2 linked regions of the Homo sapiens genome follow. The protein of the gene in region 2 interacts with the protein of the main gene of each other region in a biochemical or structural test. Each region holds a gene or a part of one and is shown on either strand. Other genes may lie near its edges.

The links.
Region 1: the proteins of RTF1 (region 2) and TCEA1 form a complex in vitro, tested with the Homo sapiens proteins (one study listed by BioGRID).

The regions. Positions count from the first base shown.
Region 1 is NC_000008.11:53,971,895-53,988,115, reverse strand, and holds part of TCEA1 (transcription elongation factor A protein 1), read left to right. Parts: coding exon 1-2; intron 3-1,090; coding exon 1,091-1,147; intron 1,148-3,598; coding exon 3,599-3,753; intron 3,754-8,944; coding exon 8,945-9,091; intron 9,092-9,418; exon of another isoform or gene 9,419-9,593; intron 9,594-16,221. Other genes in the region: LYPLA1-TCEA1 readthrough, read left to right, coding at 1-2, 1,091-1,147, 3,599-3,753, 8,945-9,091.
Region 2 is NC_000015.10:41,465,402-41,481,622, reverse strand, and holds part of RTF1 (RNA polymerase-associated protein RTF1 homolog), read right to left. Parts: intron 15,483-16,221; coding exon 15,371-15,482; intron 11,367-15,370; coding exon 11,231-11,366; intron 10,452-11,230; coding exon 10,274-10,451; intron 7,004-10,273; coding exon 6,921-7,003; intron 6,099-6,920; coding exon 6,011-6,098; intron 5,912-6,010; coding exon 5,804-5,911; intron 5,178-5,803; coding exon 5,100-5,177; intron 4,459-5,099; coding exon 4,337-4,458; intron 4,166-4,336; coding exon 4,108-4,165; intron 3,076-4,107; coding exon 2,998-3,075; intron 2,521-2,997; coding exon 2,425-2,520; intron 2,197-2,424; exon of another isoform or gene 2,132-2,196; intron 1,410-2,131; coding exon 1,298-1,409; intron 1,043-1,297; coding exon 936-1,042; 3' UTR 1-935. UniProt on the Homo sapiens protein: Component of the PAF1 complex (PAF1C) which has multiple functions during transcription by RNA polymerase II and is implicated in regulation of development and maintenance of embryonic stem cell pluripotency.

The sequences.
Region 1 (16,221 bases), on a different chromosome or scaffold from region 2:
GGGTAAGTCCAGTGCATGTTATTTCTCAGTCCTTTGGTCACCACCCACAACCACTGCCATCTCCAACTCCATATTGCTGTTTGATGAGTGTTACCCTGTGGATAGCCCACCCACTGCTGCTTAGCTTGGGGAGAAGTTGTTGCTGATACGGGTCTGTTAAGGGGGAGAGGAGGAGGAATACTGGGGCATTTGCTTATTACTATGTAATTGTAAGAAATAGATTCCCTCTAATACATGGATGTTTTCCCTGATTTCATAGTAATGTACACTTTTTTCTCACAAATCTTTTGTTTCCCCACAATTTAATCTGCAAACTACATACCCTGATCTTATATTGAGAGTTAACAATACTGAATTGTTGAATAGTATGACATATAGTATGAATGTTTTCCATTTTCTAGTTAGAAAAAGGGAGGGTGAGTCTTGATTTATATATGGGAGCTTAATTTAATTTGAAAGTATCCAGTCTTAACATGTAACATTTGGATTTAAAGTTTTATATACAGGAATATTTGTTATTTTATACGAATTCATCCTTTTTCTTTTCTCTCATTCTGCACCATGGCTAGTTTGACCTGATTTTCTCCTTACTCTGCCCTTTCTACTTTGATTTCCTGACTGTCTCTTTTATTTTTTCTGCCTAGTTTATTTCCTTCTATCCTCTTGCATATTTGTATAGCAGTCTTCTGAGTGTGTCTGTATATGTGATTGGCAGATTAACTAAATGATTTCTTTGCATTGAAGCCTGAGTCACAGGAGACTAGACAGTTCTTTCTGTAACTTTCTCTACTCTGCTGGAGCAGCCAGAATTTATGGAGTTACGAAAAATGAATTGCCTGCTAGATCAGTTACTTCCTGTGCCTGAGGGATCAGGAATCATCAGTGCAGGAGCACTGTGGGTATCAGGTGAAGCCCAGAAAAGAAGTCTAGCGGGCAGTGAAGTGATCAGATTCTAACGAACTAAACTGAACGGTTTCTTTATGTCAGGCAAATGGGGTTTAAGAAATAGGAATGCAGTTTAATTACCTGGTATTAGAATTTTCTTTTAATCTGTTACAATAATTTGACAATTCTTTATGCCTATTTTTAGATGACTACATTGCAATTGGAGCTGATGAGGAAGAATTAGGATCTCAAATTGAAGAAGATATCCTTTGTGTGTATATTCATAATTGTTTTTTTTAATAAGTAATATTTATTGAACATATGCAAATGCCAGGCACGGTTTTACATGCAGTAGTCCTTCCAATGAATTAGGTGCTCTCATCCCATTTTACAGAGAGAAAACAGAAGCAGAAGAGGATTGGTCATTGTTCTAGATCACACAGCCTGACACTGACAGGGCTGGGATTCCATTGTAGGGAATTTGGCTCCAAGCCCATGACCTTGACCACCACGCTAGACTTTTTCCTTCATGTTGAAGCTGAATGAACTAGAAACAGCGAAGTTTAAAAGGACCTGGCTCTTTGGAAACTGAAACATATAAATCCCTAGTAAAATTGCTTCAGATAGCAGGAGAGTGAAAATATGATTGAGAACAAGAAAGGCAAACCGATAACATAATTAGAAGAGATTACAAAATACATGAGAACATTGGGTGTATCTCGTTGGCAATTTGAAAACCTAAAGAATTTCGCTTTCCTAGCAAAACATGAGTGTCCAAGATTGACTTTATGTACTTGGCAGGACAGGCTGTGTTATATTATGGTGACAACCTTGAAATTTCAGTGGCTTAACACCACAGAGGTTTCTTTCACAGATTAAACTGGACAAACAGGAATGTATTTGTCCTATATGTTCATCACAGGCTAGCTGAGGACTCTGGGCTTTGGGTCATTGTCCTCTAGGACCAGGCAGGTGGATTGGCCATTGTGAGTGGTGATGTGGCAGAAGGTAAAATGGATAAATTGCATACTGGCTTTCAAAACTACTGCTGAGGAGTGACATCTATTACTTCTGCTACCAGCCAGAAAGGTCTCTTGGTGTCACACAACTTCAAGTGGTCATAATTGTTTTAAGTAATCTGCTAGCTTAATTTTTCCTGTTGGTATAGAATTCAAAGTCTTATTCTTCACTTTTTATCTTGATTGTATTGTTTTCTTGGAAAGGAGAGGGACATCTATGTCATTTTATTTGTCTTGTTTTTCCTGTTATTGAAAAGGAAAGTACAGTATTGATGGCATTTATGACATTTAAATTTTTCTGCCTTGTAGATTGAGACTGTAGTGTCTGAATTTAAGTTGTGCAAAAGGGCATGGAAAGCACACACATATAAATGTGAAGACTTCTCAGTTAGGGGGACCTCAGAGCACACACAGTCACCTGAGCTCATTATCCCAGAGGAAGCGTGTTCTTGCTAAGCACCGGGAAAGGGCTCCAGGAGAGGGGTACTGTGTGTGAGTAGGGGCAGGGAGCATCTAGGTGGCTGTGTAACATGAGATTGTCCTGGTTGAGGAAATGGCCTTATTAGGAAGGGAGCTGTTCCAGGGTTCAGCTTTGGCAGTGGCCTCTTCTGCAGAGAAGAAGAGCCTGCTGAGGTAGCTCCTGCTGAGCTGGGGGAGGAGAGGAACCCTCACGGCCATGCTGAATGGTCTCTTCTCAGAGACCCTGTGGGAACTGTGTGACCAGAGAGACTTTAGGATCCTTAGTAGAATTCGGATTTGGGCAAGTAAAGCTTGAATAAGTTCAAGCTCCTTTTCAAACATGTGCTTTCTCATGTTGAGTACTTGAGTTACTTTTTGAAACCCTGTTGACTTGCATACTGCTGGCACTAAACATTTAGGAAATAAAACATGACTAGGCCGGGCGCGGTGGCTCACGCCTATAATCCCAGCACTTTGAGAGGCCGAGACGGGTGGATCACCTGAGGTCAGGAGTTTGAGACCAGCCTGGCCAACATGGTGAAACCCCGTCTCTACTAAAAATACAAAAATTAGCCGGGCATGGTGGCAGGCGCTTATAATCGCAGCAGCTACTCGGGAGGCTGAGGTAGGAGAACTGCTTGAACCCGGGAGGTGGAGGTTGCAGTGAGCTGAGGTCCAGCCTGGGTGACAGAGTGAGACTCCTTCTACCCACCTTCAAAACAAACAACTACTTTACAGTGTAAAAGTAATATCACTATTATTCGCCAATTACAGCTCAAGGAATTAGATATAGTACCTTGTTTTTAACATACTCTAAATTGGAAACAGTTGTCGTGAATTGCTTAGAAATTTCAGGTTTGTTTTTTTTTTTAAGATGGAGTGTCCCTCTGTCGCCCAGGCTGGAGTGTAGTGACCTGATCTCAGCTCGCTGCAACCTCTGCCTCCCAGGTCAAGTGGTTGTCCTGCCTCAGCCTCCCGAGTAGCTGGGACTGCAGGCACCTGCCACCATGCCTGGTTAATTTTTTGTGTTTTTAATAGAGACGGGGTTTCATCATGTTAGCCGGGATGGTCTCGATCTCCTGACCTCGTGATCCACCAGCCTCAGCCTCCCAAAGTGCTGGGATTACAGGCATGAGCCACCGTGCCTGGCCTCAGGAATTCTTATTTTGGCAGAACAGGAAAAAAAAGTGATCTTACTTTTGTAATTTTGCCTTTTTTCCTTAACGGCCTGGTACCTATATATCAAGAAATAAGGAATACAGACATGAAATACAAAAATAGAGTACGAAGTAGGATATCAAATCTTAAAGATGCAAAAAATCCAAATTTAAGGAAAAATGTCCTCTGTGGGAATATTCCTCCTGACTTATTTGCTAGAATGACAGCAGAGGTGAGTATGTGTGAATCTGAGGTTTCTATAATGTGATTCTGTGTTGTGAAGTGTAAAGCCTATTATCATCATAGACTACTATATAAATATTGCATATGTAATAAATTTCCGTTATTCTGATATATTTATATACTAGACAAATACTTAAGGTGATTGTGTCTTTTGTCAGTACTTTGCTCCCCCTCCAACTGTTTCCATGCTTTTAATGTGATTACACTAAATTATTTTCTAAAAACAAACGTGTTTTACTTTTTTTTCTTTCGAGACAGAGTTTTGCTTTTGTTGACCAGGCTGGAGTGCAATGGCACGATCTTGGCCCACCGCAACCTCCCCCTCCTGGGTTCAAGCGATTCTCCTGCCTCAGCCTCCCAAGTAGATGGGATTACAGGCGTGCACCACCACACCCAGCTAATTTTTGTATTTTTAGTAGAGACAGGGTTTCTTCATGTTGGTCAGGCTGGTCTCGAACTCCCAACCTCCAGATGATCTGTCCGCCTTGGCCTCCCAAAGTGTTGGAATTACAGGTGTGAGCCACCACGGCTGGCCACCAAGTGTTTTTTACTTTTTATGAATTAGTGTAGAACCAGAGAGTTGAATCTCTTAATTGCAAGTACACTTTGTAAGTGCTAACCTTTTTTGTGGTTAAACACTATAAAATTGGTCACATCATATTGATTATTTCTTTTTTTTTTTTGATACGAAATTTTGCCCTTGTTGCCTGGGCTGGGATGCAATGGCATAGTCTTGGCTCACTGCAACCTCTGCCTCCCGGGTTCAAGCGATTCTCCTGCTTCAGATTCTCCTGCTCCTGTAATCTCCTGCTGGGATCACAGGCGTGAGCCACTGTGCCCATCCTATTGATTATTTCTTAAATTTTTACAGGGAATTATGGAAAAAATGAAATTTATAGCTTGCTATTTATAGACATGGTTGTTCATAGATATTAGCTATATTGTATCTACAATTTCAACGTTTTAGTGAACATTGAAGAGAGTGAATTTTTCTTCTGTACACAAACATACCTCAGATACATTGCAAGTTTGGATTGGACTACTGCAATAAAGTGACACACGAGTCACACAAATTTTTTGACTTTCCAGTACATATAAAAGTTATGCTTATACTATAATCTACTAAATGTACAATAGCATTACATCTAAGAAAACAGTGTACACCTTATACCTTGCTAAACAATGTACACCTTGCTAAAAATTGCTCATGATCATCTGAGTCTTCAGCAAGTCATACTATTTTTCTGGAAAAGGGAATTGCCTGGATGTTGACGGCTGCTGACTGATTAGGGTAGTGGTTATTGAAGGTTGAGGTGGCTGTGGTAATTTTGTAAAATAAGACAACAGTGAGATTTGATGCATTGATGGAGCAAATATTCATGAAATATTTCTTGGTAGCCTGTGATGCTGTTTAATAGCATTTATCCATAGTAGATGTTCTTTCAGAATTGGAGTCAGTGCTGTCAAATGCTGCTGCTGCCTTATCAACTAAGTTGACATATTATTCTAAATCCTTTGCTGTCATTTCAACAATGTTCACAGCATCTTCACCAGGAATAGGTTCCATCTCAGGAAATTACTTTTTGCTCCTCCACAAGAAGCATCTCATCTATTCAGCTTTTATTATGAGATTGAAGCAACTCAGTCACATCTTGAAGCTCTACTTCTAATCTTCCTTCTCATGCTTTTTCCATTACATCTGTGGTTACTTTCATTTTTTTTTTTTTTTTTTTTTTTTGGTGGGGAATGGAGTTTCACTGTTGTCGCCCAGGCTGGAGTGCAGTGGTGTGATCTCTGCTCACTGCAACCTCTGCCTCCTGGGTTCAAGCGATTCTCCTGCCTTAGTCTCCTGAGTAGCTGGGATTACAGGCGCCCGCCACCAAGCCCAGCTAATTTTTGTACTTTTAGTAGAGACAGGGTTTCACCATGTTGGGCAGGCTGGTCTCAAACTCCTGACCTCAGGTGATCCACCCGCCTCGGCCTTCCAAAGTTCTGGGATTACAGGCGTGAGCCACCGTGCCTGGCCCCTCTGTGGTTACTTTCTCTGGTGAAGTCAAACCCCTCAAAGTCATCCATGATGATTGGAGTCAACTTTTTTCAAACTCCTCTAAATGTTGACATATTGACCTCTTCTCAATGAATCACTAATGTTCCTAATGGCATCTAGGATGGTTAATCCTTTCCAAAAGGTTTTCAGTTTACTTTATTCAGATCTATCTGAAGAATTACTTTTTGTAGAAGCTACAGCCTTGCAAAAAGTATTTCTGAAATAATAAAACTTGAAAGTCAGTTGGGCATGGTGGCCACACCTGTAATCAAAGCAGTTTGGGAAGCCGAGATGAGCAGATCACTTGAGTCCAGGAGGTGGAGACTAGCCCGGGCAACATAGCAAGTTCCCATCTCTACAAAAAAAAAAAAAAAAAAGAAAACTTAGCTGGGCATGGTGTGGTGCGTTCCTGTAATCCCAGCTACTCAGGAGGCTGAGGTGGGAGGATCACTTTAGGCCAAGAGGTGGAGGTTTCAGTAAGCTGAGATTGCACCACTGCGCTCCAGCGTGGGTGACAGAGTGAAATCCTGTCTCAAAAAAAAAAAAAAAAGTCAGAATTACTCCTTGATTCATGAACTGCAGAATCAATGTTGTTGTTAGCAGGCATGAAAATAACATTAATCTCCTTGTATGTCTCCATCAGAGCTATTGGATGACTAGGCATATTGATGACTAAGTGCATTGTCAATGAGTAGGAATATTTTGAAAGAAATCTTTTTTCTGAGCAGTAGGTCTCAATAGTGGGGTTAAAATATTCAGTAAATCATGCTGTAAATAGATGTGCTGTCATCCAGGCTTTGTTGTTTCATTTATAGAACACAGACAGAGTAGAGGTAGCATAATTCTTAAGGGCTGTAAGATTTTCCAAATGGTAAATGAGCATTGGCTTCAACTTGAAGTCACCAGATGCTTTAGCCCCTAACAAGAGAGTCCTTCAAAGTCCTTTGAGGCTTTGAAGGCAGGCGTTGACTTCTTCTCTTTAGCTGTGAAAGTCCTAGATGTCACCCTCTTCCAATATTCATCAACATTGAAAATCTTTGTTTAGAATAGCTACCTTCATCAATGATCTTAGCTAGATCTTTTGGATAACTTGCCGTAGCTTCTCCATCAGCACTTGCTGCTTCACCTTGCATTTTGTACTATGTTATGGAGACAGCTTCTTTCCTTAAACCTCATGAACCAGCTTCTGGTAGCCTCTTGACTTTTCTTCGGCAGCTTCCTCATCTCTCTCAGCATTAAAGAGTTAAGGCCTTTTTCTGGATTAGGCTTTGGCTTAAGGGAATGTTGTGGTTGGTTTGATCTTCTGTCTAGGCCACTAAAACGTTTTCATATCGGCAATAAGGCTATTTTGATCATTATTCATGTGTTCACTGGAGTAGCACTTTTAATTTCCATCAAGAAATTTTCCTTTGCATTCACAATTTGGCTAACTGGTGTAAGAGACCTAGCTTTTGGCTTATCCCAGCTTTCCATATGCCTTCCTCACTAAACTTAGTCTTATTTCTAGGTTTTGATTTAAAGTGAGACATGTTGACTCTTCCTTGTCCTTGAATACTTAGAGGCCATTGTAGGGTTATTAATTGGCCTGATTTCAATATTGTTGTGTCTCAGGGAGTAGGGAGGCCCAAGGAGAGGAAGAGAGACGGGGAAAGAGTGGAGCAGTCGGAACACACACAGCATTTGTCAAGCTTACTGTCCTATGTGGTCAAAGTTAGTGGTGCCCCTAAAACAGTGATAGTAACATAAGAAATTACTGATCACAGATTACCTAACAGATATAATAATAGTGAAAATGCTTGGAATATTGTGAGAATTACCAAGATGTGACACAGAGACATGAAATGAGCACATGCTTTTGGAAAAATAGCGCCAATAGATTTGCTCAACACAGCATTGCTGCAGACCTTCAATTTGTAAAAAATGCAGTAACTGCAAAGTGCAATAAAATGAAGCACAATAGCGCAGAGCAAGATAAAGCAAAGTATGACTGTAGCTGGTAAAAACTGGCGTGAGAAGATGACCCTGGCATATTCTATACATTTCTTGCCTCAAAACTGGAATCAGGCATTCCTCCAGAGATCCCTGACTTCTTTTGGGAGTGGGGTGTAGGCAATGCTATTAGAAACTATAATCTGGATACTAGAGGTACTCGTTGTAAGTTTACATTGTTCATAGTGTAATCACCTGACAGCTTCTTCCCGCCCACTACACAGACAAAACCAATTCACTGAGACTGCGCTATTGCGGTTAAGAAAGAGTTTTATTAATGCAAGGCTGGCCATGCAGGAGACGAAGTTATTACTCACATTAGTCTCCCTGAAGACTTGGAGGTTAGGGTTTTACAAGAATAGTTTGGTGGTAACTATTCCTAGGTGACTAGGGAATGGGTGCTGCTGATTGATTGGGGATGCAATCATAGGGATGTGGGAACTGGTCCTTCTGTACCTCTGGGTGAGGGGCCTGAGTTCTGGAGGGGTCAGTCTGAAAAACATCTCAAAAAACCAATCTCAGGTTCTACAATAATAATGTTACCTATAGGAGCAATTGGGGAAGTCACACACTTTGTGTCCTCTGGCCACATGACTCCTGAGCAGTGAGGGATTATAGAAACTATGTCTACATTTTAGCAGAGTTCAGGCCTGTCCCATAATCCTAATCCTCTGGCATTTCATTAGTCTTAACAAAGGTGATCTCAGGCTCTGAACAAGGAGGGATCGATTTTAGGGAAGGACTGTTACCATCTTTGCATCAAAGTTAAACTAAATTCCTTCCATGGTTAACTTGGCCTGTGCCCAGGAAAGAGGGAAGACAGCCAGCCTGTGACACTAGAAGCAAGATGGAGTCAGCCATGTTCAATTTCTCTCACTGTCATAATCTTTGCAAAGGTGGTTTTAGTAGCCTTTAAACAGTACTTAAATCCAATTTTCACATGTAAACTTTTAAGTATTTGAAGAAATTTTTAAAAGGAATTAAACTCTTACAAAGCCTTTGAGGAAAAATATTAATTTAATGCTTTTAAAACCTTAAAGGTTGATATGTGGTTTTATTATTATTAGGCTAATTGAGCATAAAAGCATTCAGGATATATATAGAAGGTGTCTATAACTGAGTGGTATTGCCCCCTACCTCATAGGAAATGGCTAGTGATGAGCTGAAAGAGATGCGGAAAAACTTGACCAAAGAAGCCATCAGAGAGCATCAGATGGCCAAGACTGGTGGGACCCAGACTGACTTGTTCACATGTGGCAAATGTAAAAAGAAGAATTGCACTTACACACAGGTTTGTGATTGTTTATAGATTCTTATTTTTATATAAAAATGCTTGCAACTCCTGTTTTAAAATAAATAGCAAAGATAATTACCAGTATGATAGTCCCTCACTTATCCATGGAGGGATATGTTCTAAGACCCTGAGTGGATGCCTGAAACCACGGATAGTACCTAACCCTATGTATACCACGTTTTTTCCGATACATATGTACTGATAAGTTTTATTTATAAATTAGGCATAGGAAGAGATTAACAATAATAACTTAATCAAATAGAATAATTATAACAAGATACTGTTATGAAAGTAATATGAGTGTAGTCTTTCTGTCTCTCACAGTGTCTTGCACTGTACTCACCCCTGTTCATTTGATGAGATGAGGCGAAGTGAATGATGTAGGCATTGTGACTAAGTGTTAGGCTGCTGTTGACCTTCTGATGATCCATCAGAAGGAGGCTCATCTGCTTCAGGTGGTCCTGCCTCATCGAGCCCTGATGATGTGGATGACTAATGGGTAGGTAGCATTACAGTGACACACACTGGACAAAGGGATGATCTGTATTCCAAGTGAGACAGAGTAGGATGGTACAGGCTGTCTTCATGCTACTCAGAACAATGTACAGTTTAAAACTGATGAATTGTTTATTTCTGGAATTTTTCATTTAATATTTTCAGACCATAGATAACTGAAACCATGGAAAGCAAAACCATGGATAACTGGGGACTAGTTCAAGAGGAGATAAGATTTCTTTCTTAAGTGTAAGAATGATTTTTTTTAAAAAAAATTATTATTATTTTTTTGCGGAGATGGGGTCTTGCTGCATTGTCCAGGCTGATCCCAAATTTCCAGACTCGAATGATCCTCTCACCTTGGCCTCCCGAAGTACTGGGAATACAGGCATGAGCCTCTGTGCCTTGTCAGAATGCTTTCTTAATACTGATTCTAGTTAACTAAAACCAAGTTGATATATTTATACTTTCACAGAAATAGTTACTATGAAAGCTATGTCAAAATTTATAAAATATAAGAATTAATAAAATGACCATGTTCTTTTTTAAAAGTTCATAAGCAATTGTATTGGTTACTAGGTAAATTGGCCATAATCCTTTTTATTTTGCAGGACTATATAATTTAAGGAAAGTTCTTCACGCTCCTCCACATGGCTTATGAGTACTTTAGGCTTAACTGTCTTCTGGATAATTTGTTCCTTTTTGTAATATTGATAACTTACATTTATGTACGATATGACTAGCCTTTTTATTCTTTAACAGCTGAAAACCGTGTTATAGTTATTTTGGTTGCATGTGCATATGTGAAAATTTTTTTTATCACTGTCTTAATTTCATTTGCCAAATAGGTTTTTGTGCTATGTTATCTGCTGTAAACTCAAGATTGTCTCCTTAAGGGACAACTTACTATGTTTCAGATAGTAGATTTGGGGAATTGATTTTTTCACCGATAGAACATTAAGCACTTAAAAAATAGCATCACTAAACTCTAAAGGGGCCTTTACTTAAAACAAATTTTGTTGGTAGTTATTTTTGTGGTTAAAAATTGAAAAAGTACAAAAGTTTATGAGTAGGAAATTCCATTCCCACTTTTGCCTGTGGCCACCTCGTTCTCCCTCCCTGAAAGTAAAGCAAGGTTACTAGTTTGTTGTGAAACTTAGGTATTTTATGTGTATACATGCAAATATTTTTGTTTTCCTTTTTCTTTGAGACAGAGTCTCACTCTATTGCCCAGGCTGGAGTGCAGTGGCGCCATCTCAGCTCACTGCAAACTCCGCCTCCCGGGTTCACGCCGTTCTCCTGCCTCAGCCTCCCGAGTAGCTGGGACTACAGGCACCCACCACAACGCCTGGCTAATTTTTTTGTATTTTTAGTAGAGACGGGGTTTCACTGTGTTAGCCAGGGTGGTCTCGATCTCCTGACCTCGTGATCTGCCTGTCTCAGCCTCCCAAAGTGCTGGGATTACAGGCGTGAGCCACCACGCCCAGCCTTTGTTTTCCTTTTTCTAAACACATATGGAAAATGTTATATGAGCTTCTGCCTCTTTTCTACTGTTTACAGACATGTAATCTCTATTTTCAGATATACTTAATTTAACTAGTCTGAAGTCCTTTACCTGTTTGAAGCCTCATTAAGTCACAGTTGTGTATTTCCATGTTTCATTTTGTAGCAGTTTTACTACTGATTGTTACTAAAATGCATCAACACTGATAAAAGTGGTCTCAGAAAATTCTGAGTTTGAATTGCTCTATTTTCTTTTAATCAGGTAGAAATATCTTAACAATAAAAATTGCACCCTAAAAAATGCCATCTATTAGAAAGTATTAAGTATAAATAGTTATTTAAAAGTTAAAACTTCTTTAAAAAGTAAAAGTGATATACTTACATAATCAAATTATAAATAGCTAAGACAAAAAACATAAATACCAAGTTTGTTTCTTTTAGCAAAAGGAACCCAGCCTAAAGTTGGAGCCAGTATGATTTTCTTAGAATCACAAAGTGTTCGCTTCAGATAGAAAACTCTCAAAGTTCTCATGGAAATAACAGATGTAAAAGAAATAAGTGTAACTCTTGATTACTACGTACCCAAGAGGAGATTAAAATTTTTCCCAGAGAGCAAAAGATTCATGTCCACTTTTGGGGCCCTGGATATCAGAATTAAGTATATATAAAGTATAGCAGGAGTTTTCAAACCATTTTCATCTGAAGGCCTTAAGTGAGTAGAACGCTGCTGTTCTGAGGATGGTGCTGCTTTGTCTTCCTTTGGGCCTTTGAGTTGGAAGGCATGTTAATAGTTTACCGGTGTCATGAACCTTTGATCTTTGAAGTGGTGATAAACTGGTATTTTATCATCTCTTACGGAATTTCAGTATACCTTATTCTAACTGCAACATTATTAGTATTTAGGTTCTTGCCACAACTTAAGAATAACATTTAACTTTAATAATGCTTTGTCATCTTCATTCAGAGAAATAACCTTTCTGTTTTTGAGACCTTTGATTCTGGTAATTCTCTTCAGTTTAGAACTTCAGAAATTTATAATCTTGTATAGATTAAGTTTTTAAAAATCATATTAGCTTTTTTTCTTGCTGAGTTCTCTTTTTAAGTTTTAAAAAAAGTAGTTGTGGTAGAATTTATATGTAACCTAAAATTTCCCAACTTAACCAGTTATTTTTAAGTGTACTGTTCAGTAGTAGAGCATTCACAGTGCTGTACATCCAGTCTCCGGAACACTTTTCCTCTTGCAAAAGTGAAACTCTTTACCCATTAAACAGTAACTCCCCATTCCCCTCTCCCCAGCCCAACAACCACCATTCTGCTCTCTGACTCTCAGAATTTGACTATACCAAGTACTTCATATAAGTAGAATCATAGAATGTTTGTCTTATTGTGACTGGCCTATTTCACTTAGCATAATATCTGCAAGGTTTATCTGTGTTGTGATATATGTCAGACTTTCCCTACTTTTTACGGCTGGATAATATTCCATTGTATGTTCATACCACATTTTGTATATTCATCTGTTGATGGACACTTGGGTTCCTTCTACTTTTTAGCTATTGTGAATAATGCTACTGTGAACTTAAGTGTACAGATACCTCTTTGAGACTCTACTTCCTTTCTTTTGGTTATGTACCCAACAGTGGAATTGCAGTAGTAATGGCTTATAGAAAAATTAGGAAAATACAGAAAAATATGAGTAATAAATTTAAGTCATCCATTAAGCTGCCTTCCAAAGAGAACAATTACCAGTATTTTGTTGTTTGCAATATTTAGTGAATTTTTTTCTGTGTATAGTTGGAATTAAGTACTGTAAAAACTATTTTATGCTCTTCTTTTAACTTAGCTACCATAATGTAAGCATTTCCCTCTCTTTTAAAATTTTTCCAGAGAATAGTTTGAGATGTATAAAATAAATCAGTGCTATACAAAAATAATAAAAATATTTTGCTCTTTTATTTACAAATTAATTTCATAAACAAACTTAACATGATAAACAACAAAAAGTTCTTCCATCTTTTATGGCTAGAAAAATAAATTATTTTAATAGCTATTTAAATCTGCCTCCTGCTCCCAGAGAAATTAATGTATTATATATATATATATTTCAAATTATCCCTAACCTTTAAACAAACAAGCGTAGATACTGCTCTATTTTTACATAGAATTGTAAACAGCCTTTTAAAAAGCTGGAGTAGGCTGGGTGCGGTGGCTCACATCTGGAATCCCAACACTTTGGGAGGCTGAGGCAGGCGGATCACCTGAGGTCAGGAGCTTGAGAACAGCCTGGCCAACATGGTGAAACCCCCATCTCTACTAAAAATACAAAAAATTAGGCAGGCGTGTTGGCGCTTGCCTGTAATCCTAGCTACTTAGGAGGCTGAGGCAGGAGAATTGCTTGAACCCAGGAAGTGGAGGTTGCAGTGAGCTGAGATCATGCCATTGCACTCCAGCCTGGGTGACAAGAATGAAACTCCGTCCCCCCCCCACCCCCACCCCCACTACCCCCCAAAAAAACCAGAAAGCTAGAGTAACTTTCCACTAGTTGGAATTGAACTTCATAAAATATAAACATTTTATAAACCCTACAATTCAGGTAATTTGATTTAATTATGACTAATCTATAGGAATATACAATACAAATTTGTCAGTCATCCACAATTAAGAACAACTATTTATGAAGAAAAATTTTACTATGTTTAGAATGAGATTTTATTCATATTCTTGAAAGGTAGCTTTGTTCCCAATAAATATTTCTCCTACTATTTCTGTATATTTTAGGGGATGTTTTCAATTCAAAAAGAAATAACATCCAGTTATTTGACTTTTTTTTTCTTGCTTGAAACTGCTCTGTTTTGGTTTTTACAGATTTAATAAACATTGACAAGGCAGGATCAGTGGACTTCACCGAAACCCCCACCTCCCTGGTTCAAATGATTCTCCTGCCTCAGCCTCCCGAGTAGCTGGGATTACAGGTGCCAGCCACCATGCCTGGCTAATTTTCTTGTATTTTTAGTAGAGACAGGGTTTCACCATGTTGGCCAGGCTGGTCTCGAACTCCTGACCTCAGGTGATCCACCCATCTTGGCCTCCCAAAGTGCTGGGATTATAGGCGTGAGCCACTGTGCCTGGCCCTCTTTTTTCTTTATTGCCTGAGTAAGTTCTTGTTTTTTCTGTTCTCTTTGCCAGGCTTTCTCCTCAAGGGTTTTTTCCACAGCTTTTGTTTTCTTGAAATTGGGATCTGAGGGATGCACATTGAACAAGTGGGAAGTGTACATTGCTTGAAACCATGCATTGCTAACATTTACCTCAAAGTCATCCTCTAATAATTTCTTTTTTTTCATGAGCTGCTTTTTCTTCTTTTTCTTCTTTTTGCTCAGGTTCTGGTGCTCCACAATCTTGTTGTAATTGAAGTGTTTCTTACTTTCCTCCTCCTCATCCAGTAAGGAAAGCCATTTCAGCCTTTCATCTTTCTATTTTGGTTTCTTCTTCTGGAGATGTGCCATCTTTTGCAGATTTTGTTCACTTTTTTCTTTATACCTATTTTTTTAAACTTCTTTAGCAAAGTACTGGTCATTCATATCAACATCAGAGGGAAGTTAATTTTCACTGGCCTCTTTAGCAAGAGTCTTCTTTTTCTTTTTGTCTTTTTTTCTTTCTTCTTTAAAAATTGTTCCCAAGGGGTCAGTTTATCCTTTCCTTTCAATTTGTTCTTGACCATCTCTTTGCACTTTCTTTAAGACCTGGAACCCACTTCGTTTCCATTTCCATATCATTTTCTTTGTCTTTCTTTTCTTTTTCTTGAATAACCTGCAAAAGTTGCCTATATTTAGTGATTTGTTCTTCATCGTCCTTCTGACTTTTGTTTTCCCATCTTCTTCTACATTGACTTCATCATCACCTTGTAGCTCCTCTTCTATCTCCTCTTCATTTTCGCTAGAGGAAGCTAAGTAGTCTTGAAAATCCATGTCCAAAAGCTCTTCCTTTTAAGCTTCCTGTTGAGTGTTGTAATTCTTTCATGTTCAGTCTCATCCCAAGTGATTTCCACCATTGATGTTCCCATTGCAGCAGATATGATATATATTTAGTTTATATGCTGTTAAATACACCTCTGAGGCTACGTCCTTCGGCTCATCATCAAAAGTAGTATCATCTGGTATAAACCTTAGATCTGTGAAAGAACAACTACTTTCAAATTCCAGGCCACCACAATCCTCATAAATTTTACTGGCTGTTTCAGGAGAATCACAGTCTACTACTGCATAATAGTACTTCAGTCATTTGAGTTGATAACCTCTCAGTTTTTCTCTAGAGGTCCAGTCCTTTTTTGGGGCATCTTCAGGAACACTTAATAGCTCTACTGATCCTCAAACTTGCTCTTCCTTCACCCTCTCCTTTCCAAACTCTGAAGAATATATTTTTACAGGAAATATAACACCTCCTTTAGGTTTAAATCAGTTGAACAGAGTCAGCAAATCTTTTGCCTTTAATCTATCCCAGTCCATGTTGCAAACTGCTAATTAATGTGTAATGTCATCAGCACGAGGAGCAGGTTTATCTGATTCTCTCCATGCATGCCCAAAACTTGATTCTTCTGGAAACAAATCTGCCATATCATCTTCATTTTCAGAACTAGTTTCTATATTTCCTTTACCCCTTGCAAGATTAGGGCTGCTGTCACTTGCATCATCATCCTCACCATTCTCTTCATCCTCCTCTTCATTTTCATCATCACTTCCATTGTCATCATCACCTGAAGCTCTACCAATACTTGTAATTTCATTTTTAGATTCCTCATCACTTCCTGTTTTACTAACACTTTCTAAATCTTCCTTTAGAGCATCTTTGTCAAACATTTTACTGTCTGTTGAGTTTTCATAACCATCACTGCCACTTGCCGTTATGGATGGAACCACTGGTTGCATTTCTCTTCTTGTCTTAGAACACTTGATCTTGGGAGATTTCACATCAGAGGTGCCCGAGTCTAATGTCCTTCATCTTTCTTTGAGAGAAGAGTTGATAGTATGTTGAATAATGTTTTTTTTCTCTTTTGTACTTTTTTGTGTAAATTTTTTGCTCTCCTTCTTTGGACTTATGTTGGGAGCTATCTTAGATTTACATGGTTTTCATTT
Region 2 (16,221 bases):
AGAGCAAGACATTCACTGCCCTCCCTGGTACCTGGCCATGGGCTTCCCTCCCACACCTGCCAGGACACAGCCTGCAGGTCAGGGGGCTAAACTGGGGAGTTTTCTCCAAAGTTGGGAAAGGATGGGAAGAGTAGGTGGGAATGGGGAAGTTACACAGCTACAGCAGTCAGGCCTGTTTAGTAAGAAGAATCACATTTAATGAGTTTCTTTCTTGCAGTTTCAGATGCTCAAGTACAGCTGAAAAAAATCTGAAACAGCTATAGACCCATGACAGACTGATACAAAGAGTACTGCATTTTAAAAAAATGATAAAAAAATCCACACACTTACACACACACACATACACACTCTCGCTCTCAAATTAGACCCCCCCCCCCCACAAATGTACACTTTTTGGAAACTAAACTGGTTTTGAAACCCCTTCTTCCAAAAAGAAGGGCAGAAGAGAAAGATGAAGAGAGGAAAGAGGATCGCAGGTGCCCAATCCCCGCTCCCCCCACAAGGTCACGTGCCGAATGTTCAATGGGTGGGCCAAGGCAGTCTGTAGAGGAGACCGCCTGGTGCTGCTGCTATTGCCCCAGGGGCTCCAGCAAGATTCCCAGCTCCATGGTAATACTGAATGCGTGCAGAGTGGCCAATGAACTGCGCGGTTAAAAAAACAAAAGGCAAACACAAATCTAAAGACATGGATAAAGCCCAAGAGAGCCCAGGCCCACACTGGGTGGGGCCCTGGGGGAGGGGAGGCTGGTGGGAGATGGTGTGCAGACAAAGGAGGTCTATACAGCAAATGGTTTATATTACAGATGACTGGCAGTTTAGAGTCTCTTCCCAGTTCAACAGCTGCTCCAGCCCAAAGAGGCTAAATCAAAGGAAAGGAGGAAAGGTGGGACGCTGCGATGGGGCATGCAGGGTCAGAAGCAGCAGGCTGGGTGTGCTCAAATAAGCCCTCGTCGTTTTTTGTAGTCTTCCAAGTTCAGAGATCTCCTTGGAGCCCCATCCTTGGCTGGCGGAGCCTTGGAGGTGATGGCTAAAGCCTTTGACTCTGTGGGAAAGAAGAGCAAGTTGGCAGCTGAGGTCCCACAAAGTCCTCTTAGTCCTGTGCTACACTCCTGCAGGCAGCCTCCTGACTGTGGCCCTGTTCCCTCTCACCATACCCACAGCCTGTCTTGGCCTGGCCTGTGGATGCTGATGAGCCAGCATTCCCCTTTCTTCCCTAAAAGTGGGCTTCCTTGTTGCCCCAGAAAACCATGGATCCATCTGGTTCTCAGCCCTCACCACCCGCCCCACCCTCACATACCTGAGCTGGGAACTTGTAAGTCAATCTTCACATCAAAATCGTGTACTTTGAACAGATCTTCTGAGAGGTCACTGGCTGACTTAGAATTCAAATCTTTATCTTTGCCTTGACCCTGGAATGTGAAGAGGAAAGCTAATGGTAAGAGCATAAATGCAAGTGGATTTCAAGCAGCAGCAGCCACTAACGGTACGAAGCTCTTATTTGAGTTCATTAGATTTTCCTACTAAGGCCCCTTTCTGATTCCTTCTCTCAGAGGGAGGCCACAGACAAAGAGCTTTCTCTCCTGAAGGCTACAAGCACAGAGAAGAGGGCAGGCTTGTGTCTGTGGTATGAGTGTAGAAAGGGTGGGCTTAAGCAACGGGTCACTTCCTGACCTAAGATTTCAGAAATCCTGAGACCAGTTAGACTACAACAGGAAAAGACTTAACTTGGACAGAAAACTGCTTTTTTTTTTTTTTTTTGAGGTGGGAGTCTCACTCTTGTCACCTAGGCTGGAGTACAACGGTGCAATCTTGGCTCACTGCAACCTCCCCCTCCCAGGTTCACGCGATTTTCCTGCCTCAGCCTCCTCAGTAGCTGGAGTTATCGGAACCCGCCACCATGCCCAGCTATTTTTTTTCTATTTTTAGTAGAGACGGGGTTCTACCATGTTGGCCAGGCTGGTCTCGAACTCCTGACCTCAGGTGATCCGCCCACCTCCGCCTCCCAAAGTGCTGGGATTACAGGCATGAGCCACTGCGCCCAGCAAGAAAACTGCTTTTAAATGTGCCATTTTCAACAAGCTTTCACTTTTACAATGTCTGATCTTTGTATGTTATCTCTCCTCCTGTGAAGCTGGCAGGGTATACAGTAGTACCCTCATTTTACACAGCAGAAAAGGGGATGCTGAGGGCTGGAAGCCAGCTGCTGAAGGACATAGTCAAGGCCCTAGGCAAGTAGTGGTGTCAGGTTTGGAATTAAGGTTGTCTGTTGATTATATCTGTAAATAACTGGGATGGAGAAGGGACTCCAAGAGGGACTCCCTGTTCCTCAAGGTGGAAAAATCAAGCCCAAACTAGACAAGGTACTTGTTCGGTATCTCAGCCAGCAGCCTCACTCAGCAGGCAACAGGGTGGTACCACACTTGCCTTGCTCATTTCCTTTGGAGCATCTGGTAACACTCCAGAACCGTATTTTGCATTCAGCTGGGCCAAGATGGCAGCTTGAACAGCTGGGTCTCTGGACTGAGAGAGAAAATAAGTTGTTTTAGAGATTGCTTGACACTCACAGAGTCCTACTGCCAGATTCTTTCCCACCTACCAAACTAACATCACAAGCACCACAGCCGACCCATCAGCAGCTAGTGGGGTTTTCCTCAAAGCAGCAAAAAAAAAAAAAAAAAAGGCAATTACAAGCTTGAAAGCCAAGCCCAGCCCAGCCAGGCCCTAGCTAAGGGACACATTACTAATGTCTGCTGCACTGTAAACCCACCCTGATACAGGAGGATCAGTCACTAGGTTTTTATAAATCCATGCCACGTTTTCACTACCGATATGTCCTATAGCAAGATAAAAAAGGAAGTATCCAGACCCAAGAGCTTCAGACAAGCAAATCCCAGCTAAGAAAACATTATTTTTAACTTCATTATTAATTTCCTAATGGAATTCATTTTGTGTCCTAGAATCTAGGTCCTGACTAAAATGTCCTCTTTCAGCACTCACATTAGAAACGATGGTAGGCTTGCACTGCCGCCGAGTAAAGGGATCCATCTGTTGGTTTTTCATGTTGTGACTTTCAGCCTGAAACAGAAAGCATGCACCACAGAACTGCACCTCCAGCCCCTCCTCTCATTCACCATAAGCTCACAGGCAAATAAGTCTTTGCACGGGACTGAAAAAAAAAAAAGCTATTATCCTTTTCCTTTTTTTTTTTTTTTAATTTTTTTTGAGATGGAGTCTCGCCCTGTCGCCTAGGCTGAAGTGCAGTGACGCAATCTCAGCTCATTGCATCTGCTGCCTCTCAGGTTCAAGTGATTCTCCTGCCTCAGCCTCTCCAGCAGCTGGGACTATAGGTGCAAGCCACCAAACCCAGCTAATTTTTGTATTTTTAGTAGAGACAGGGTTTCGCCATGTTGGCCAGGCTGCTCTCAAACTCCTGACCTCAGGTGATCCACCCACCTCAGCCTCCCAAAGTGCTGGGATTACAGGCGTGAGCCACCATGCCCGGCTAATTTTTTTTATTTTTTAAATGGATTCTCGCTCTCTTGCCCAGGCTAAAGTGCAGTGGCACGACAGCTCACTGCAATCTCCACATCCCAGGTTCAAGTGATTCTCGTGCCTCAGCCTCCCAAGTAGCTGGGATTACAGGCGTGCACCACCATGTCCGGCTCATTTTTGTATTTTTAGGAGAGACAGGGTTTTGTCATGCTGGCCAGGCTGGTTTCAAACTCCTGACCCCAGGTGATCCACCCGCCTCGGCCTCCCAAAGTGCTGGGATTACAGGCGTGAGACACCGCGCCCGGCATATTATCCTTTTCCCTTCAAGAATACCAGAGTAGATATGGGGGAAACAACCAAGAAACAGAAATTGAGAAAAAACAAATACCTGTGGAGTAGAATCTAAGGGTGGGAAGAGGTAGGACAGGGCAGAAGACTGCTGCTTTTCATTATGAATAAATTATATCGATGTACGTGGACATACAGAGAGAGTGTGTATACGTTAAGTGCCTACGTTATTTCAATAATTAAAAAATAAACTTAGGCAAGATGTAGAAAAGATGTCATGGTTTATTAATTAACTTTGTTTTAGTGATTCAGATAAAGTTTTCTTACCACAAGGGCCTTCTCAGACTCTACAATGTTCCACTCCCGGTTCCGCTGGTTGATGTAACTGTGGGGTAAGAGGGATGAGTCAGTGGCTGTGAAACAAGGGAGGGAGGGAACCACTGAGCCCTGAACTCAGATATCTATGGGGTCAGTGCAGCACAGAGTGTACAGGCCACAGGCTTGCCTGATAATTTTGGCCAAGGTCTGCGGGCCAAAAATAGGCTCCATAACACACCTGATAGCGGATATGTTCTTGGTCCGCTGGCGGTCCAGGGCCTCTGCCCGTTCCTCCAGCTCATTCAGTTGATCTTGGATTTGTTTGGCCTTGTCCTGATCCCCCAGGTCCTCAGCCATGGCCTACACATAGAGAGATGTGTGAGTTCGTTCTTGGCTACATACAACTGACTCCATATCAAGTATCCCCTTACTTCCAGCACAGGCAAAGATATCTCATGTGGTGAGCAAAGGACAGGAGATGTGGAAGAATACTGTAGAAGTACTTTACAAATACAAGATATAATTTATATTATAGTAGTGCACAGTACAGTGGGGAACACCTTCCCATACAGCTACCTGGCTGTGGGTCCCTGGTGGCAGTAGAACCCCAGGCCTCACAGGGTGGCTAAACCACCATAACAAGGCCCACCCCAACCCAGTGTGAAGAATGGAAAATCACCAGCCACAGGTGGCCTTGACAGTGTCATCTGTCTGTTCAGACTCAGTGTTAAATACCACCCCAGGGTCTATTTTATTACAAAGGAAACTGAAGTGACTAGAAAGTAAGAAGACTGGCACACACGCAGAAGATGAGTTTGAATTTAGGGAATGGAAAATGGCCAAGGAACGTTGCCCAGGTGCCAAGAACACACTGTGTTGCTTATAATCGAGCCCAGAATTTTCTCCCAATCCTACCACCACTAACTTGGCAGAGGATGAACAAGTTTGATTTCCACATCTCCTTACAGGATGAGGAAAGAGGCTCGAGTACAACTCCTTACCTTTTCCTTCAGTAGCTGAGTCTTCTTCATAGCGTAGTTGGGTGGAGCTTTTCTGAACCTTTCTTTCTCTTTTACAATCTGTACCAGAGAGGAGATACCAGCAGTGAGGTATTCCTAAGCTATTTTTGTAGACAGGCTAAGTGAGCCCATTTTGGATGCAAACAGCTAGTTACAAAGGGGCTGCTCTTCCTACAGCAGTGTCATGCCCCAGAGAGAGAGAGAGCGGGTTCATTCCAAGGGATACTATGCTGCTTCCTGGGTCACGGAGATTCTTCTGGGACAGGCTGAAGGAACATGCACCAAGAAACAGCAGCCCAAGGGCCTGGTAGTGTAAGGCTAGCCACTGTCCAAGAGAACAGAGATCAAATAATTTTACCAAGATGTTTTAGAAAAGGAAAACTCTTGAAGGATCAAGCCTAGCAGAATACAGACCCCTGAACCCTAAATACACTTTAGTGTATGTAGCCTCATTTGTTGTCTCATCTGAACTCTGAATACACTTCAGTCTATGTTAGCCTCATCCGGACATGAGAATGTATAGAAAAAAGCTTGATGAACTATAAATAATCAGGTAGTAATATTAGTATTCCCTCATTTTCATGCATAGCTAAAAATGTCAAGATATAGGGAAATAAAAGAGAATCATGTTCTCTCAACACTGGTTCTTGATGAACCTCCGGGTTCTGGGGCACCAGTTTTCTTACCTCTTCAATGTCCTGATCATTGAATTTATAATTAAGAGCTTCTTTAATAGATAATTCCTTTTTATTGATTTCATCTAGAGTGGGCAACTGCATGCCAGCAGAGAACATCTGGATCAAAAACACGATACGAGATTATTAGTAAGGGATTTTGGAAAGATATTTTCTCAACGTGCACGAACAACTGCTAGGTAATCTCTAGCCACGTACCGCTTCTTTCCACTTCATAAACTCACTTTCGGTGAATTCTTGGTTTGAGACAAACTCTAAACGGAACACGCGTTGGTCATTGCCATGCCTACATAAAAGAGAGACAGCATCTCCAAGAAATGTGCATGTTGACTGTAGTACAAGCAAAGCAACCTTACCAGACTATGTACCACCTATATATACCTATTGCAGTGGTTCTCAATCCTAGCTACCCTATAAAATCATCCCAGGCTGTTTTAATGAGCTGCCAAGATTGAGATCCCAAAGCTAGCACTGGAAACCAAATGGGCTTGGTCAGTGCTTCAAAAGTCAATTTACAATAAAATCCATTACAGTCAACATCAACAATATGCAACAGAGCCTGGGACAGGGTTACATGCCTGTGGTCACAGCTCCTCAGGAGACTGAGGTGGGAGGATCACCTGAGCCCAGGAGTTCCAAGCTGCAGTGCACTATGATGGCACCTAGAGCAGTGCCTGGCACACTGTACATTCGGTAAATATTTGCTGAGTGAATGACACTTTCATTTTACTGAAGAGGAAATGAAGTCCATAAAAATGATCTTTCTTGTCACAGATGAGGTTATGACATAGAGCCAGAACCAGAAGCAAGCCTCTTGGACATGCTTGCCAAGGAAATGCCAGCGAGGCTCTGGGAGGGTCTCTCATAACCACACATTTCCTTTCTCTGTGTCCTACCCCTTCATATATTTGGTTCCCTCTAGAGGAGAGAATATCCTACCTTCCCTATAGACAAAGATGGAATACAAGTCTCCCTCCAAGTGTACCTTGTGGGGATTGCATACATAGCGTTCATGGTAACAAGGAACATCACACAGAGAGAACAGCAGCCCCCAAAGCCAGTGCCTGTTTGAAGTGGAAGCAGAAGCTACCCCAGAAGTGCCTCCTACCGTAGTTGCAGCCCTTTGTTTGTTCTGGTGCCACCTAGTTGGTAAACTTTGGCAGTTTCCACAACACCCGTAATCTCAGCGACCTAAGTGAGAGGACAGAGACGCCAGTCAAAACCAGACTCTTCCGGAGCTTTCCACAACACTCTTCCTTTGCGTCTCTCTACCTGAACGCAGACAACTGATAGAGTGCTGAGTAGAGTCCACAGCTGCCAGGGGTTCTGAGAAAGGTTTCTCAGGTTTAGAATCCAGATGGCCAAGCACAGGGAGCCTTGTGCCCAGGAGGAGAAAGTGCCAGCAGAAGAGGAGCCCGATGGGGCCCACTGGAAGCTTTTCCTCCAACTAATTCTAACTTACAAGGGATGTATTTGGGATTTCACCAGTTGATTTTTATCAACCAAATGTGAAGACCATGTAGGTCAGTTTCTGTTGCCAAGCATTTCAGGATATGGCATGGCTGCAGGTCCTCATACAAGGGGATAACACACATAAAAACCAGACAAGAATAAAACAAAACAAAAACAATCCAGGCTGGGCGCCGAGGTTCAGGCCTGTAATTCCAGCACTTTGGGAGGCTGAGGTAGGAGGATTACTTGAAGCCAGGAATTTGAGACCAACCTCAGCAACACAGAGAGACCCAGTCTCTCTTTTTTTTTGTTTTTTGTTTTTGAGACAAAGTCTTGCTCTGTCGCCCAGGCTGGAGTGCAATGGCATGATTTTGGCTCACTGCAACCTCTGCCTCCCTGGTTCAAGTGATTCTCCTGCCTCAGCCGCCCAAGTAGCCGGGACTACAGGCACATGCCACCACGCCAAGCTAATTTTTTGTATTTTTAGTAGAGAGGGGTTTCACCATGTTAGCCAGGATGGTCTCGATCTCCTGACCTCGTGATCCACCTGCCTCCCAAAGTACTGGGATTACAGGCGTGAGCCACTGCGCCCAGCCGAGACCCAGTCTCTACAAAAAAGAAAAAAAAAATTAGTTGGGCATAGTGGTGTGCACCTACAGTCCTAGCTACTCAAGAGGCTGTTGTAGGAGGATCGTTTGAGTCCAGGAGTTCAAGGTTGCAATGAGCTCTGATCACACCGCTGCATGCTAGCCTGGGCAACAGGGCGAGATCCTATCTCAAACAGGCTGGGCACAGTGTCTCATACCTGCAAACCTAGCACTTTCGAAAACCGAGGCAGGAAGATGGCTTGAGTCCAGGAGTTCCGGATTAGCCTGGGCAACATGGTTAAGACACTGTCTCAAAAAAAAAAAAAAAACCCAACACCTGGGCCGGGCGTGGTGGCTCACACCTGTAATCCCAGCATTTTGGGAGGCCAAGGAAGGCAGATCACGAAGTCAGGAGATCGAGACCATCCTGGCTAACAAGGTGAAACCCCGTCTCTACTAAAAATACAAAAAATTAGCTGGCATGGTGGTGGGCGCCTGTAGTCCCAGCTACTCGGGAGGCTGAGGCAGGAGAATGGCGTGAACCCAGGAGTGGGAGCTTGCAGTAAGCCAAGATCGCGCCACTGCACTCCAGCCTGGATGACAGGGCGAGACTCCGTCTCAAAAAAACAAAACAAAACAAAACAAAAAACCAACACCAAGCACTTTAGGAGGCTGAGGCCAGAACATCACTTGAGGCCCGGAGTTTGAGACCAGCATAAGAAACAGAGAGAGGCTGTTGCTACAAAAATTTTTTTTTAAATCCCAAAGTGAGGCCGGGTGCGGTGGCTCACGCCTGTAATCCCAGCACTTTGGGAGGCCGAGGCGGGCGGATCACGAGGTTAGGAGATCAAGACCATCCTGGCTAACACGGTGAAACCCCATCTCCACTAAAAATACAAAAAATTAACCAGGCGTGGTTGCGGGCGCCTGTAGTCCCAGCTACTGGGGAGGCTGAGACAGGAGAATGGCGTGAACCTGGGAGCCAGAGTTTGCAGTGAGCCGAGATCGTGCCACTGAACTCCAGCCTGGGCCACATAGCGAGACTCCGTCTAAAAAAAAAAAAAAAGAGACTCAGTCTAAAAAAAAATCAGCCAGGCGTGGTGGCGCATGCCTGTAGTCCCAGCTACTTGGAGGCTGAGGCATGAGAATCGCTTGAACCCAGGAGGCAGAGGCTGCAGTGAGCCAAGAGCGTGCCACTGCACTCCAGCCTGGGCAACGGGGTAAGACTCTGTCTCCAAAAATAAAAAACAAAAAATTAAAAATAAGGCCGGGCTCAGTGGCTCATGTCAATAATCCCAGCACTTTGGGAGGCCGAGACAGGTGGATCACCTGAGGTCAGGAGTTCAAGACCAGCCTGGCCAACATGGTGAAACCCCATCTCTACTAAAAATACAAACAGTAGCCAGGCACGGTGGCGGGTGCCTGTAACACTAGCTACTCGGGAGGCTGAGGCAGGGGAATTACTTGAACCCAGGAGGCGGAGGTTGCAGTGAGCCAAGATCGTGCCATTGCACTCCAGCCTGGGCGACAAAAGCGAAACTCTGTCTGAAAAAAAAAAACAACAAATAAATAAAAATAAAAATAGGCCAGGTGCGGTGGCTCACGCCAGCACTTTGGGAGGCTGAGGCAGGTGGATCACAAGGTCAAGAGTTCAAGACCAGCCTCGCCAACATGGTGAAACCCCGTCTCTACTAAAAATACAAAAATTAGCCAGGTGTGGTGGCATGCGCCTGTAGTCCCAGCTACTTGGGAGGCTGAGGCGGGAGAATCACTTGAACCCGGGAGGCGGAGGTTGCAGTGAGCCAAGACCACGCCATTGCACTCCAGCCTGGGTGACAGAATGAGACTCCGTCTCAAAAAATAAAAATAAAAAAATAATAATAATGGTAAAATAAAATATAAATAAATAAATAAATAAATCCCAAAGTGTTGGGATTACAGGAGTAAGCCACTGTGCCCAGTCCACCTAGACCACAGAAGCAGTGCTGGAACCTACATAATAACCTGTATTAGTCTGGAGGGTTTTTTTTAACCTCAATACAATTCCCTGGTGTAGAAGTCACTTGGTATGCAACATGAAACTTTTCATTCATTGGTTTTTCAAATGAACAAATCTTTTAGATTATGTAACTCCCAATGAACACTTCATAGATGCCTCCCTTCTCCCTTTTATACTGAAGGGAGAATAGAGAAAATTATTCTACATCCAAATCTTCCAGGCCCTTGGGCTCCAAGTCCTCCTCTTGGCAACAAGTCATGAAGGATTCCTGGGCACCTCACTGCTCTATGGGGATCCCACTTGGAGTCTACTTTCCATCAAATGCTGAGAGAAGAGTGATCGATTTTTTCAGTAGCTCCTGCCCTCAGTTGAGACTAATTATACTGAAAGCATGGACAATTGTCCAAGGGAAGAAATACCAACCCGGTAAACTGGTTTGCTGTTGTGGTTTCCGATGCCAATCCGCACAAAACATCCTGTGACAGTTTTAGCAAAGAAGGGCATGTGACACCAGCGTTCTAGCTTATGCCGTGATAATCGAACCCGATTCAATTCTTCAGGTAAGGAAACTGGTTGGGATTTGGGAGGGATCTCTTCTTTCCTAAGAGGAACAAAGGGGCACTGGAAAAAATGTTCATCATAAAAACAGAACAAGACAGAAAAATAATATCAACTCCTCAAAACTTAACCAAAGTACATGTGACTGGCCTAGGAGGAGAAGTAAATGAAGCACCAGCAAAGACTTGTAATAGGATCCTGTTCCTGACCAGTAGTATGAGCTGTTTCAAATGAGGCTGCCATCTTAGATAACCCATCAGAGTAAGAAAATGAATGAGCCTGTAATCCCAGCACTTTGGGAGGCCGAGGCGGGCGGATCACGAGGTCAGGAGATCGAGACCATCCCGGCTAAAACAGTGAAACCCTGTCTCTATTAAAAATACAAAAAATTAGCCGGGCGTAGTGGCGGGCGCCTATAGTCCCAGCTACTTGGGAGGCTGAGGCAAGAGAATGGCGTGAACCCGGGAGGCGGAGCTTGCAGTGAGCCGAGATCCTGCCACTGCACTCCAGCCTGGGCGACAGAGCGAGACTCCGTCTCAAAAAAAAAAAAAAAAAAAAAAAAAAGAAAATGAATGAAAGCTCCAGGCCAATCTGAGAATGACACGAAGTCAGTTCCTACCTTCCAGGCCCAGGTGAAATGTCTAAGCGTACAGGCTAGCAGCCAAATGAATGGGCTGACGTGCTGGGGAACTCAGTTCAGCAAACCAAAGGTAACCATGTCAGAGTTAGTGGCCCAACCAGGGAGATTTTGGAAACGATACCAAGCTCTTCCTCAAAAACCCACCTATCCTGCCTACTAGACCAAAATGTACAAGAGCTTACTCCTCTTCTTCATCAGACGATGATGTTCGTGATGAGCGGTCTGACTTTTCACTGGATTTGTCATCCTCTTCCTCCTCTTCATCATCAGAGTAGACCTCACTGGTTTTTAATGGCTGTTTTTTGGCAAGGAGCTCAGCTAGAAAGAAAGAAGAGATGTTTACCTAGGTTTTCTCAACAAGAAAATGAATTCATCCTTGAAAAAGAACTGGAAATGGAAGAGGACTCAAATACACAGCTCCGTCCTCTCTAGACTGGATTGTGCTAACTTGGGGTATATACAGAAATGAGTTAAAACACAGAGTTAAAATTATTCAGGTGCCAAATGTCAGGCCCCAGCAGATGAAAAAAGGGCTGGAAGATTGATACTAGGTGGGCAGAAAGGGTCACCAACACTACTGACAGTTCTCTTTTATGGCACTCAAGACACTTGACTATGGGGAGGAAAGAGGGGGAAAGACTCATGATGACTTCAGAAGCTTCTGAGGAAAATTTAAAATAGGAGAGTGGCTAAATCACCACTGGTACATCTACCAATGAACTACTATGCAGCTATAAAAAAGGAACGTGGGGACGGGTGCGGTGGCTTACGCCTGTAATCTCAGCACTTTGGGAGGCAGAGGCAGGTGGATCACTTGAGGTCAGGAGTTCGAGACCAGCTTGGTCAACATGGTGAAACTCTGTCTCTACTAAAATACAAAAATTAGCCAGGCATTGTGGCCGGCACCTGTTATCCCAGCTACTTGGGAGGCTGAGGCAGGAGAATCGCTTGAACCCGGGAGGCGGAGGTTGCAGTGAGCCAAGACTGTATACCACTGCACTCCAGCCTGGGCAACAGAGCGAGACTCCATCTCAAAAAAAAAAAAAGGAACGTGGCCAGGCATGGTGACTCATGCCTGTAATCCCAGCACTTTGGGAGGTCGAGGTGGGTAGATCACTTGAGCTCAGGGGTTTGGGACCAGCCTGGGCAACATGGTGAATCTGCATCTCTACCAAAAATACAAAAAACAAACCAGGAGTGGTGGCTAAAAAAAAAAGAGAGAGAAAACTGTGTATAATATGCTACCATTAATCTAAGATGGCAGGTTAATCTGTGTACTTACGATTTAAAAAGAAAAAAGAATAATATAAAAAAATTTTAGGCTGGGAGTGTTGGCTCATGCACTTTGGGAGGCCAAGGCAAGGCGGATCACTTAAGGTCAGGAGTTCAAGACCACCCTGGCCAACATGGCTAAACCCCATCTCTACTAAAAATACAAAACAAAATTAGGTGGTGGTGCACGCATGTAGTCTCAGCTACTCAAGAGGCTGAGGTGGGAGAATCGCTTGAACCCGGGAGGTGAAGGTTGCAATGAGCCGAGATCGCGCCACTGCACTCCAGACTGAGTAACAGAGAGAGATCCTGTCTCAAAAAAGAGAGAGAGAAAAAGATGGATGGAAGGAAGGAAAAATAACTGCAATGGATTAAAACACATAAAGCACGTTAAAAATGATGAGTTCACAAGGATATTCAAAATAAATAAAACCCATCAGTCATCTTTGGAAGTTGCTAAAAACTATCTCTCTCTCTCTCTTTAAAATATTGCAGAAACAGGGTCTCACTATGTTGCCCAGGCTGGTCTTGAATTACACATGTGAGCCACTGTACCTTGCCAGGAACTATCTCATTCTTTCAAAAACTGGTAAACGAAAGGAAAATTAATCAAGCATTTATCTTGCCTTTCCTGTTCAAAATGTGCCTGGGGGGTAACTAAATAGCTGATTAGAAGTTTCTCTTTAGGCCGGGTGCGGTGGCTCACACCTGTAATCCCAGCACTTTGGGAGGCCGAGGCGGGCGGATCACAAGGTCAGGAGATCAAGACCATCCTGGCTAACATGGTGAAACCCCTTCTCTACTAAAAATACAAAAAATTAGCTGGGCGTGGTGGCAGGTGCCTGTAGTCCCAGCTACTCAGGAGGCTGAGGCAGGAGAATGGTGTGAACCCAGGAGGCGGAGCTTGCAGTGAGCCGAGATCGCGCCACTGCACTCCAACCTGGGCGACAGAGCGAGACTCCGTCTCAAAAAAAAAAGGTTTCTCTTTATAGAAGCAGGCTAGATAATGAATGAGGAAAGAATGACAGATTCGAAATATCACCATTTTGCAACTCCTAATGAATTAAATTATCTAGGTAATGACCATCAGTGGCTACTAGGACAGAACACGTTATTATTTCTTTTTCTTTTTTTTTGAGACAGAGTCTCACTCTTGTTGCCCAGGCTGGAGTGCAATGGTAGGATCTTGGCTCACTGCAACCTCCACCTCCCGGGTTCAAGTGATTTTCAGTGCCTCAGCCCCACAAGTAGCTGGGATTACAGGCATGTGCTACCACGCCTGACTAATTTTTGTACTTTTAGTAGAGACGGGATTTCACTCTGTTGGCCAGGCTGGTCTCCAACTCCAGACCTCACGTGATCTGCCTGCTCTGACCTCACAAAGTGCTGGGATTACAGGTGTGAGCCACCGTGCCTGGCCTGGCTAATTTTATTATTTTTAGTAGAGATGGGCTTGCACCATGTTGGCCAGGCCGGTCTTGAACTCCTGGCCTCAAGCAATCCTCCAGCCTCAGCCTCCCGAAGTGCTGGGATTACAAGCGTGAGCCACTACACTCAGCCCCACATTATCTTTTGTTGTTTTTTTTTTAAGATTGAGTCTCACTCTGTTGTCCAGGCTGGAGCGCAGTGGCGGAATCTCAGCTCACTGCAACCTCCGTCTCCCGGGTTCAAGGGATTCTCCTGCCTCAGCCTCCTGAGGAGCTGGGATTACAGGCATGCACAACCATGGCCAGCTAATTTTTGTATTTTTTGTAGAGATGGGGTTTCACCATGTTTGCCAGGCTGGTCTCAAGCTCCTGACCTCAGGTGATCCGCCCACCTTGGCCTCCCAAAGTGCTAGGATTACAATTGTGAGGCACCACGACCGGCCCCCACAGTATCCTTTCTAATTCTTCACCCATCTCTATACCCATGTCCTTTGCTATATGCCTTAGTCATTCTTCCCGGCCCCATAGTGACACTATGCCAATTCCAAGTCTAGGCCCTAAGAGGCATGTGTGTCTTTGCTTGCCCCTTTTATACTTCTGTCATCACCATATAAAAGTGCTCGGGGTTTACTGGCCCAGGGAGGAAGAGAGAGGTAGAACAGACCTGGCTACCACCTATAGCTTGGAGATAATTCCAGCTGAACTCATGCCATCAGGAGGGTGAATTGCAGTTGAACTTCAGATGCATGAGCAGAACAGGGGTTAGTTTGTTACTTCACATTATTGTGGTAAGAGCTAACTGACAGGATTGTTAACATCACAAACTGAGAGACAGTCAGATATCATGTGTCTCCTGATGGAAATACATACCACTACCTAAAAATCAGCCTTCCCCAAGAACAAGCAACAATGACAACAACAGAACAAACCCAAATCTGACCAATTCTGTAGCTCTAACTAACCATTTACAGGAAACCCAAGGGACCAGAAACACATTCAACAACAAAAACGAGATGTAGTCAGCAATGTGAGAAACCAGAAGACAAATGACCCAGTTCCTTCAGCAAATAACGCTGCAAGGCAGGGCAAAGAGATGGGGAAGAAAACATACAGATTAAATGCCTTAAGGGACGTATTAACAGATCACAATGTATGGACTTTAAGATCCTGATTCAAGTGGTCTTGTTTTTTAAATTACAAAACAAATAGAAATGTTTTTAAAATCTTGTTTTTTAAATTACAAAACAAATAGAAAAATTTGAACACTGACTAGATATTTGACAAAGAGTTCATTGTTATTTCTAGGTGTAATAATGGTATTATAGTTAGGTTTAAAACAAAAGTACTTATCTTTTAGAGGAACATACTGAAATATTTATGGTTAAAATATAATAATGCTGGTATTTGCTTTAAAATAATCTGATGAAAGGATTATAGATTTAACAAGACTGGCCAAGAGCTGACTGCTGTGGCTGGATGATGGGTTTGTGGATGTTTATACTATTCTGGGTATGTGCTGGAATTTTATATGAGAAAGATATAACAAGAGGGCAAAATGAAAATGGACACCAGGAAGTCAAATCATATAAAGACACAAGTAGCCATTATATTTCCCTCGCTTACCTGTTCTGTTCTTTCGTTTTTCTCGCTCTGCTTTTAGCTCCTCCATGGCTTGAGATTTCTTGTCTAGTTTCTCATCCCGCTTGGAACGCCGTTCCTTGTTGTGGGATGTTACCTAGGAAGGGAAGGATATATAGAATGGCCCTTTTTACCAACAGCTGATAAGATTCTCTAAACCTACTTAATGCATTTAGTCCTCCAACATCAATCTATATGGGCTGCAAAAACTTAGAGCTTTTATGTAAGGGGAGAGAGCATCCTCTTGTGGACAAAGAGGATAGCGCAGTAAAGTAAGCCCTGTCTAAAATGCCTATTCCAAGTTCAAGAATTATCCGAATAAACTCTTTCTGGAAGAACACACTACAACACAGCTAATGTTGGGATTACAGGCATAAGCCACTACACTCAGCCCCACATTATCTTTTTTTGTTGTTTTTCTGAGATGGAGTCTCATTTATGATAAATACAGAGATTATTTTCCCAGCTATATTTATACCAAGTAAAGGATGATATACATCTAAGTAAACATCATAAGCATCTGGCTACCTAGGACAGGTTGTTTACCAACTTTTCCTTAAGGGATGGTCACTCACTAGTGGGCTGCTTTTTTTTTTTAAAACAGAGCCTCGCTCTTCTGCCCAGGCTGGAGGGCCATGGCATGATCTCAGCTCACTGCAACCTCCGCTTCTGAGGTTCAAGCAATTCTTGTGCCTCAGCCCCCCGAGTAGCTGGGATTAAAGGCATAAGCCACCACGCCAGGCTAATTTTTGTATTTTTAGTAGAGACAGGATTTCGCCACGTTGGCCAGGCTGGTCTCAAACTCCTGGCCTTGAGTGATCTGTCTGCCTCGGCCT